2 separate regions of the Homo sapiens genome follow, and region 1 is linked to region 2. Evidence: fine-mapped expression QTL. A gene starts in region 2. The other region holds a variant in brackets. All regions are shown on one strand. Distances are from middle to middle.

What was found.
Region 1: its variant is fine-mapped to the expression of PPP1R3B-AS1 in testis (GTEx, PIP 0.90).

Annotation. Positions count from the first base shown.
Region 1 is chr8:9,115,377-9,120,905 of GRCh38, reverse strand. It overlaps LOC112268402 (a long non-coding RNA gene), which reads left to right. Exons shown (of 3, transcript XR_007060803.1): 3 at 4,500-5,233. Among named protein-coding and RNA genes, the nearest start is that of PPP1R3B-AS1, 23 kb to the left of the region's middle. The variant C/T (reference allele first, on the strand shown) is at 3,313.
Region 2 is chr8:9,138,385-9,143,384 of GRCh38, reverse strand. PPP1R3B-AS1 (PPP1R3B antisense RNA 1) reads right to left here and starts at 1,966. Exons shown (of 2, transcript XR_007060810.1): 1 at 1,587-1,966. It overlaps PPP1R3B (protein phosphatase 1 regulatory subunit 3B), which reads left to right. Exons shown (of 2, transcript NM_024607.4): 2 at 1,717-5,000. The coding sequence starts at 1,734. The coding sequence ends at 2,591. RefSeq lists an enhancer at 2,397-2,896.

The DNA of each region.
Region 1 (5,529 bases), 23 kb after region 2:
TTGCTGCAGGTGTGGTGGCTGCCAAGGCAGGCAGAGCCCTTTGGATAGAGCCACATCTGAGGTATCTTTTCATTTCCAAGCTTTAAAAAAGCACGATGTTTCTTGATGTAGGTTCTCCATCGTCTGGCCTCTGCCTATTCCCATAGCACATCCCCTGCTGGCCACTGCCACACACTGTAGACGTCCACCAATGCCAAGTTGCTTGGTGGGCCCCACACACCCCATGCTATTTCCCACCTCCAGGCTCTGCTCATAAAATTCCTTCTGCCCTGTTGACTAGAGGAGTGCCCAGCATGGAGTAGCCACCCAGGCATGATTATGGAACTGAGCTCATGAGACTTCAGGTCCCTTCTCTTCATGTGGAGTCTCGCTGTGTCTCCCAGGCTGGAGTGCAGTGGCGTGATCTCGGCTCACTTGTCTCCCAAGTTCAAGCAATTCTCCTGCCTCAGCCTCCCGAGTAGCTGGGATTACCGGCATGTGCCACCACGCCCAGCTAACTTTTTATATTTTTTAGTAGAGATGGGGTTCACCATGTTGGTCAGGCTGGTCTCGAACTCCTGGCCTCAAATGATCTGCCCGCCTCGGCCTCCCAAACTGCTGGGATTACAGGCGTGAGCCACCACACCTGGCCTGCGCACTCTTTAAGGCTTCTCCTTGGTCCATTCCCCATAGACATGAGATCTGACCTGTCTCAGCATAGGCTAAGCCTATCCCAGAGGCATAGATGCTGATCAGAATTGTAAGCTGGAGAAGATAACACTTTCCATTAGATTAACCAACAACATGAATACAGCTTCTAGAAATATCTCAGGTAATGAATGAGACTGCCTCATCCAAATTACAAACATATCCAGGTTGTGATAATATCTGTTTCTGTTAACATAATGGTCCTTAGTTGCTATGGTAATCTTCTCCGTTGACCTGACTCTAGTGGATGAGGTTATCAGGGCCCTATCACTTCCCAGCATCAAAGCAATCTTCTAATCTGCCACACAAACTAGGGCATTTTTGAAGGTCAGAAGGATTGCTATTTATAATACACCAATGCAACAGGTATAAATAAGACAGTTCCTGGCAAATTGAGATACATGGTGACATTTCCTATCAGACTTTAAAGTATCTCACATAAATAGATCCTCAACAAGTGTTTCCTGGATGAATATATTTGTTTTTTCCTCCGTTGTAATTTAAGTTTCTTAAGAACAGAGGTGGCTGGGTGCGGTGGCTCACGCCTGTAATCCCAGCACTTTGAGAGGCCAAAGCTGGTCGATTACCTGAGGTCAGGAGATCAAGACCATCCTGGCTAACACGGTGAAACCCCGTCTCTACTAAAAATACAAAAAATTAGCTGCACGTGGTGGCGGGCGCCTGTAATCCCAGCTACTCAGGAGGCTGAGGCAGGAGAAGCGAAGCCCTTGAACCCGGGAGACAGAGGTTGCAGTGAGCTGAGATTGAGCCATTGCACTCTAGCCTGGGCAACAAGAGCGAAACTCTGTCTCAAAAAAAAAAAAAAAAAGAACAGAGGCAATGTCTAATGTTTCTTCTAGATTACTCATAATGATGGATATACCATAGCCACTCAAAAATATCTGTTAACTGTCTTATGATGAGATGTTCTTTCCAAGTGAAAATTCCCTATGGGCAACTGGAAGTACAAGAATAGAACTTTGCTGAGAAGTTAAAGCTAGAATATTTGGGTAGGTCTTTAGAGAATATAGGGTTAGCTTGGAATAGAAACCCTCCCAAGATACTATAGACACCTAAGAAAAATCAGTGAAGAGATCTGAAATATATCCATAGGAGGATGAAAGCCTCCTGTTGTTTGCTGAGCTAGAGCAAGATAGAAGTCATGAGCTTTTACTAATCATTGTATTTTATAGTGTGAAGGGGGAAGAGAACTGGAGATTTTTTTTTTAGCCAAAAAAAATAGTAATAAAATGGCTAATTTTAGGTAACATCAGCCTTTGGCAATAATACTTGAATGCAATAGAATAAAAAGACAGCTGGGTGCAGTGGCACATGCCTGTAATCCCAGCACTTTAGGAGGCCAAGGCAGGCAGATTGTTTGAGCCCAGGAGTTCGAGACCAGCCTGGTCAACATGGTGAAACTCTGTCTCCACAAAAAAATTTAAAAATTACCCGGGCATGTTGGTGCATGCCTGTGGTCCCTCCCAACTACTCGGGAGGCTGAGGTGGGACGATCGCTTGAGCCTGGGAGGTCAAGGCTGCAGTGAGCCGAGATCACATCACTGCACTCCAGCCTGGGTGACAGAGCGAGACCCTGTCTCAAAAATTTAAAAAAAAAAAAAAAAAAAAAAAAAAACAACAAAAAAGAATAAAAAGACTCTTACATAGCTGACTAGCTGACACAAGAAAGAACTGTGGAACACCAGTGACTCCTACTGCCTCATTTTACAGATGAAAGAATTAAGGCCCAGGGAATTTAATTGACATCCAGTTACCTGTTCCCCTTCTGGAAAATTCTTGCTGTGAAAATTTGACATTTGATTAGCCATTGGTGAGACTTCAGCAGTCCTGGGGAAACTTCAGTCTTCATTCCAAGGTATGGCTACAGTTTTGCCCCTTTAGATTAGAAACTAGAAACTTTTGAAGTTTTGCCAAGCTAAGGGCCTTCTTCTCCTTGTTTGGTAACTCTAACTCCCATGAGGTCTAGGTTAGCAAATGTGGATCTGTTCTCGCAAGCAGCAGGAGAAGTGGAAAGAGGGAGATGGTAAATGGAAGTCATAAGCAAAAGTGGTGCCACCTGGCCTTCCCATGTGTGAAAATCCAGCCCTCGTCATCACTGGCCCACAGTGTGTAAGATGCTGACATGTGATTTAGACACCCCCAGAACCAACTGGAGAGGTCGGTCTCACAGTAAATTGAGGCCATAAATTTATGACAAACAAGAAAGCTCCATTTTAAGTCCTGTTATAGTTTCAGCAGTGGCCAGAAATGTCACTTTTGCAAGGTCACTTTATTTTTGCAAGGCTCTCCTGGTATTTCAAGAATTCTCATTGTCACAAAATTATGGGAAGTAACACCTTGGACATTTGCACTTGGACCACTGCAAGGTTAAATTCACTCCCCAAAGTTATGCAGTGAGCCCAAAGGAAGGCATATTTTATGCCCATAACCTCATTCTAAAGCCATTTCTGAGAAGATCAGGAAGGTGAATTCTTCCATTGGCTGTGTCCCAAGCTGTCATTCTCAAAAAGACTGCCGTAGCACACTGAGTCGGCCCCATGCCTCTTCCTGCATTACTTCTTTTTTTTCCCAAGCAGGATGATTTTTCCAGCACAATTATTTAAA[C/T]AAAAATAATACAGGCTGGGTGCAGTGGCTCACGCCTGTAATCCCAGCACTTTGGGAGGCCAAGGTGGGTGGATCATGAGGTCAGGAGTACGAGACCAGCCTGGCCAAGATGATGAAACCCTGTCTTTACTAAAAATACAAAAATTAGCCAGTTGTGGTAGCGGGCGCCTGTAATCCTAGCTACTTGGGAGGCTGAGGCAGGAGAATCGCTCAAACCCAGGAGGCAGAGGTTGCAGTGAGGCGAGATCGCACCACTGCACTCTAGCCTGGGTGACACAGCGAGACTCCATCTCAATAATAATAATAATAAGACTAGATGGAGATGAGGGAGGGGAGATGTGAACCCTTAGAGATTCCAGAAACTGACAAGTTTCTTGTGCCAAGAAGGCACTAGCAAGAGCCTTAGTTTAATTTACTTAATGAAAACTTATGGATTGATGAATTCTTGGGAGAAGAGGCCCTGTGTCCAATCTACCGTGCTGTTAATATAGGGCTAGGCGTGGTACTGAAGTGGCATCATGGAAACTGAGTTCCGCAAGGAAGTCATAAATGGAAACAACCTTTTCTGCCCACCTTGGACAGATTAGGCAGGGAGACAATTTTGGTAGGTGGGAAACATAAGCTGCCCAACTCCAGAGCACAGCCTCCCAAGATGGATGACTATCATACCCTTGAGTTTTCTCCCTTTGTAGGAATTAGTGCCTTATGATTGAAAAAAAAAAAAAAAGTGACCAGGCCAGGATCAAGGCACTCCTAAGGAATGGCGGGCCAGCAGCACGGACTAAAACTTGATAGATCTGGGGGAAGCGGGGTTAGACAGAGTCAGAGATCTCGAGAACACCACATTAAGAACCAGAGATCCTGGCTTTATTATATGAATTTCATTACTGGAAAATATCTGGGAATTAAAGATATCAGTGATACCATGGATACTCTAAGATTCATGGTCCATAAGCAAAATTTTGCTGAGAGATTTATTTCTGGTTCCTGGCCACCAGAAACCAACCATAGAATTAGGCTAAGTAATTTCAGGAAGAGATCTCAGTTCACTCTGACTTACTGAGGAGCAAGTAGAGGTAAAGACAGGAACAGTGAATTGCCCAAGATCACACAGGGGTTAACAACAACAGGGACCCACAGTCCAATCTCATGACTCTCAGACAAAAGCGTATCTTCCACATCCACAGGACTCCCTCCCTCTGGAGCCCCCTGGACTGCAGGCGTCTCTTGGATGCGGATGTTCCCTCTACACAAGGTGATCAGAAGGGTAAATATTCAGGGTGTGTATTTACATGACCATGAACCATGCTACTTTTTGTCTGTGAGGAAGGATGGATAAAACCTGTATCTACCACATTCTGATAAGAAAAGGGGCCTTCAAGTCAGGCAGATCTAGATTTTAGTCTTGCTTCCAAACACACTCAGCTGTGTGACAGAGAGACAACTTACTTGATCCCTTTAGGTTTCAACTCACTGATTTGCAAAATGAGAACAATACTTGCCCCTAATGTAAAGGTTTGGGGGAAGGCCAAATGAGATAATGTTTATGGAACATTTAGCACAGGGCCTTGCAAAGAATACATAAGCAATTATTATTACAGTTGACCCTTGAATAATGTGAAAGTTACGGAGGCTGACCCCCGCCATGCAGTCAAAAATCTGCATATAACTTTTGACTTCTCAAAAACTTAACTACTAATAGTTGACTTTTGACTGGAAACCTTGCCAATACTATAAACAGTCAATTAGCATATATTTTGCATATGTATTATATTCTATATTCTTATAATAAAGTAAGCTAAAGAAAATGTTATTAAGAAAATCATAAGGAGAAGAAAATACATTTACAGCACTGTACTGTATGTATTGATACCGTAAGTTTCCATTGCCTGTTCACAAGATGAATAATCTGTCTGAAATGGTGGCAACCACAGCTGCAGAGCTCAATCTATGGTACAGATCAAGCAAGTCAACTTTTTCTTGTAATGTCATGACTTTTCTCTGTTTCTTGGGAGCAATTTCAGTGTCACTAGGGGCACTCTATATGGATCTCATGATATTATTCAAGGTTTATGGTATTACACTAAAAAGAATGAAAAAGTTTGAAACATTGCAAGCATTACCAAAATGTGACACAGAGACACAAAGTGAGCACATGCATTTGGAGAAATGGTGATGATAGTCTTGTTTGATGCAGGGTTGCCACAAACTTTCATT
Region 2 (5,000 bases):
AAAAACCTACCATAAACTTAATGAAAGCAGGTTTGTGTCTATCTTCACTATTGAATCCCAGTATCTTGCTTGATGCCTGCCATATAGGAAACACCCAATCCCTATTTGTGGGATGAATCCATTTCTTTTTATCAGATTATAGCAAATATAAAGCCACAATGAGATGTCACGTCACACCCGTTAGGATGGCTATTTTCAAGAAGACCAAAGAAAATAAGTATTGGCAAAGACGTGGAGAAAAGGGAACCCTTGTCTCCTGCTGGTGGGAATGTAAATTAGTACAGCCATTATGGAAAATAGTAGGGAGGCTCCTCAAAAAACCACAACTAGAACTACTATATGACCCGGCAATCCCACTGCAGGACATATATCCAAAGGAATTGAAGTCAGTGTATCGGAGAGTTATCTGTACTCTTATGTTCATTGCAGCGTTATTCACTAAGCCAAGATACGGAATCAACCTAAGTGCCCATCATTGGATGAGTGAATAAAGAAAACATGGTATATAAACACAGTGGAATACCATTCTACCTGAAGAAAGAAGGAAATCCTGTCATTTGTGCCAACGGGGATGAACCTGGAGGATGTTAAGTGAATAAGTCAGGCACAGAGTGACAAATATAGCATGATCTCACTTATATGTGGAATCTGAAAAAGTCAAACTCATAGAAACAGAGAGTACAGGGGTGGCTACCAGAAAGTGAGGGTAGAGGGACTGGAGAGGTATCCTTTGGCCAAAGGATACAAAATTTCAGGTAGACGGGAGGAATAAATTCAAGAGATCTGATGTACAATATGGTGCCTATACTTGGTAATGATATGTTATATATTTGAAAATTGCTGAGAGTGGATTTTAAGTGTTCTCACTGCAAAAAAAGTGTGATATAATGCATGTTAAATAGCTCGATTTAGCCATTCCACAATGTATACATATATGGAAACCTGTTGTACACCATAAGAATATACAATTTTTACTTCTCAATTAATAAAGAGAGGCAGAGAGGCTCACACCTGTAATCCTAGCACCTTGGGAGGTCAAGGCAGGAGGATGGATTGAGCCAGGAGTGTGAGACCAGCCTGGGCAACATAGCGAGTCCTGTCTCTACAAAAATTTTTTAAAATTAGCCAAGCATGGTGACTTGCGCCTGTGGTCCCACTTTCTTGGGAGGCTGAGGTGGGAGGATCATTTGAGCCTGGGAGGTCGAGGCTGCAGTGAGCTGTGCTCACGCCACTGCGCTCCAGCCTGGGCACAGAGCAACACCCTATCTCTAAAAATACGTAAATAAATAGTGTCCCTCAGGACAGCTATCTGTGGAAGACACCCTTTTAGTCAAATAGATTTGGGAAATTTTAAAACAGTATATATGCCCTTTTGATTATCCTCTGTGGCACATTTGCCAACGGAAGGCCCCAAGAAATGCTGACCAAAAAACCTGTGCATTTAGTTTTAAAACTAGTGGGTTTCATACTCTTTTGTTTGTTTTAACCTTGAAGCACCCCCCACCCCCCACCGCATCTCGTCCCCCCACAACATAATCTTCTCTCAAACGCATGTTGTGCTGGACCACACCAGAGTTAATCCTGACCTGTAGCCAGGTGGGCATAGATAAAAGGAAATATTGTTTGCCAGTCCCTGCTGGAATGATGCCTTTACACATCTGTCTGATCTGATTGCTCCACTGTTTTCTTTCTTCTCTTCCCTTTCCACGGTTCTAGCCTGTTCATCTAGCCCCATGATGGCTGTGGACATCGAGTACAGATACAACTGCATGGCTCCTTCCTTGCGCCAAGAGAGGTTTGCCTTTAAGATCTCACCAAAGCCCAGCAAACCACTGAGGCCTTGTATTCAGCTGAGCAGCAAGAATGAAGCCAGTGGAATGGTGGCCCCGGCTGTCCAGGAGAAGAAGGTGAAAAAGCGGGTGTCCTTCGCAGACAACCAGGGGCTGGCCCTGACAATGGTCAAAGTGTTCTCGGAATTCGATGACCCGCTAGATATGCCATTCAACATCACCGAGCTCCTAGACAACATTGTGAGCTTGACGACAGCAGAGAGCGAGAGCTTTGTTCTGGATTTTTCCCAGCCCTCTGCAGATTACTTAGACTTTAGAAATCGACTTCAGGCCGACCACGTCTGCCTTGAGAACTGTGTGCTCAAGGACAAGGCCATTGCAGGCACTGTGAAGGTTCAGAACCTCGCATTTGAGAAGACCGTGAAAATAAGGATGACGTTCGACACCTGGAAGAGCTACACAGACTTTCCTTGTCAGTACGTGAAGGACACTTATGCCGGTTCAGACAGGGACACGTTCTCCTTCGACATCAGCTTGCCCGAGAAGATTCAGTCTTATGAAAGAATGGAGTTTGCTGTGTACTACGAGTGCAATGGACAGACGTACTGGGACAGCAACAGAGGCAAGAACTATAGGATCATCCGGGCTGAGTTAAAATCTACCCAGGGAATGACCAAGCCCCACAGTGGACCGGATTTGGGAATATCCTTTGACCAGTTCGGAAGCCCTCGGTGTTCCTATGGTCTGTTTCCAGAGTGGCCAAGTTACTTAGGATATGAAAAGCTAGGGCCCTACTACTAGTGACTGCAGGTGACAGGGCGTGGCGGAGCTGCCACAGACAAGCCTAGCTCTGCTCACTGTGCAGTGGAGATGGAAGGCCAGGGAGGAGCAACGTGGAACTTCCATGAGGCCCCGTTTGGGAAAATAAAAGGATCCTCTTCACTTCTTTCTTAAACAGCAAATCCAGCCAGGTTCAGATTACACAACCAGTGTCTCACTCAAAGGAGCAGTGGTGGCTGGCGCGCTTTCGCACTGTGGCAGCCACGAGAGTCTGTGCACGTCTGTGCTGGAAAGGGTATGGATGGGAATCAAGCCTATGCCAGTGCTGATGAAGCTGGAGGAGTCTCTCCTCTGCTCTCCACTCAGATGTGGGACATCAGTCGCCAAAAGCCACTCAGCCCCAGCCACCTCGCGTGAGACCCTCACTGTTCATTGTGTTCATCTTTGGGTGCTCTCTGCCAGCCAGGCCTTTCCTGCAAGCTGCTGTGCTTCCCCGTCCACGTGTATCTCTGCTGTGACACACTGAGCTGACGCACATTTCCAGTGCAGCTGCAGAAGAGAAATGGGATTGGCTCTTGTTTTCTGCAAGTTCATGTTTTGCATTTTATGTTCTTCCACAATTGATCTGATGTTCAGGAAAAGATAATAAAGGCAAATTAGTTAGTGGTTGAGACAGGCATTTCCTCCTCCCGCTTCTTGACCCCACAGATGTATTCCAGCAGAGAGCAACACACCAGTCATCAAAACCCACTGGCTCCTGTGCGGTGTCACAGATTGCAGGGTTCTGACAAGGCAGGACAGTCAAGAGTGGGGACACTTTCAGCTTCTACTTTTGCCTTCTAGGGGGAGCTTTCTAAGTCCCCACATTTACCCCGAGTCACCGGAAAAATCTGATTTTTCCCCCGAAAGCTCAATGACTTTAACGTGCTTGGCTGGTTTGTCTCATTCTTTATGAAAGAATTTTGGGGCCGGGCGCGGTGGCTTATGCCTGTAATCCCAGCACTTTGGGAGGCCGAGGCAGGTGGATCACGAGGTCAGGAGATCGAGACCATCCTGGCTAACACGGTGAAACCCTGTCTCTACTAAAAATACAAAAAAATTAGCCAGGCGTGGTGGCGGGCGCCTGTAGTCCCAGCTACTTGGGAGGCTGAGGCAGGAGAATGGCGGGAACCTGGGAGGCGGAGCTTACAGTGAACCGAGATCACACCACTGCATTCCCGCCTGGGCAGCAGAGCGAGACTCCGTCTCAAACAGAAAAAAAAAGAGAATTTTGAATCTCCTTTCCCAAAGAGTCATCTTTTCTGCTGTGTTTAGGACATTTGATTTGCATATCCAATATCTCCTCGAAACCTTCAGAAAATGGTTTTATCGTGACTGTGATTCACACTATCTAGAACACTTTACCAGCACCCAGGGACATGGACTTGGGTGTTCTTATTTATGGTGTGTATGTAAAGAGATAGGGGAGAAAAACCTCACCCAAGTTCTTATACGTTATTTTAAACGTTTGCCAACTCTGAAATTTCAGAGATTCATTGTTCTTAACCATATTGGACTAAAGTCTGTTGGTTAGTGCTGTTGTAAAAGAGACCTCTGGGGCCGAGTGTGGTGGCTTATGCCTGTAATCCCTGCACTTTGGGAAGCCAAGGCGGGCAGCTCACCTGAGGTCAGGCGTTCAAGACCAGCCTGGCCAACATGGTGAAACCTCGTCTGTACTAAAAATACAAAATTTAGCTGAGTGTGGTGGCAGGCGCCTGTAATCCAGCTACTCGGGAGGCTGAGGCAGGAGAATCACTTGAACCCAGGAGGTGGAGGTTGCAGTGAGCCGAGATCACGTCACTGCATTTCAGCCTGAGCGACAGAGTGAAACTGTCTCAAAAAAGAGAGACTTCCGGGACAGTCATTATCAGATAGGCCCCAAACCTGTGATTTTTCTTGGGCAAGATTGGTGTTTACTTAGGGGTGCTTTAAAAATATATTTTTACAAGTATACTTGTAGGAAGTTGGTTTTTTATTTTCTATTTTTGTTTGTTTTTGGAGTTTGGTTAAACGACTCTTTTATTTTCTGTTTTGCCTTATCTTACTAAAGTGAAGTTTTCCTAAGGCAAGCAAGAAGAGGAGTGGAAGCACAGTTGCCTGGATTTGGAGGCAGAGTTGTCAGGCTTTTCAAGCTAAGAGTCTTGTGCTTGGATTTTCCAGATTAATTTGAAAAGACCTCCCATTTGTGGCTTTGTACATAACCAACAGGCAGATACTGAGTGCCTTGGCTCCTAGAGTTTTGTGGTTGGGTTAGGTTGTTTTTGTTGTTGTTTTGTTTTGGTTTTGTTTTCATTTCTGAAGTTTAAGATGCCTTGACTTTTTAAATGCTCTTAAGGCTATTCGATGTAATTCTTACTCCTAAAACTGGCTGTTCTTAGCCTGAAATCTAAT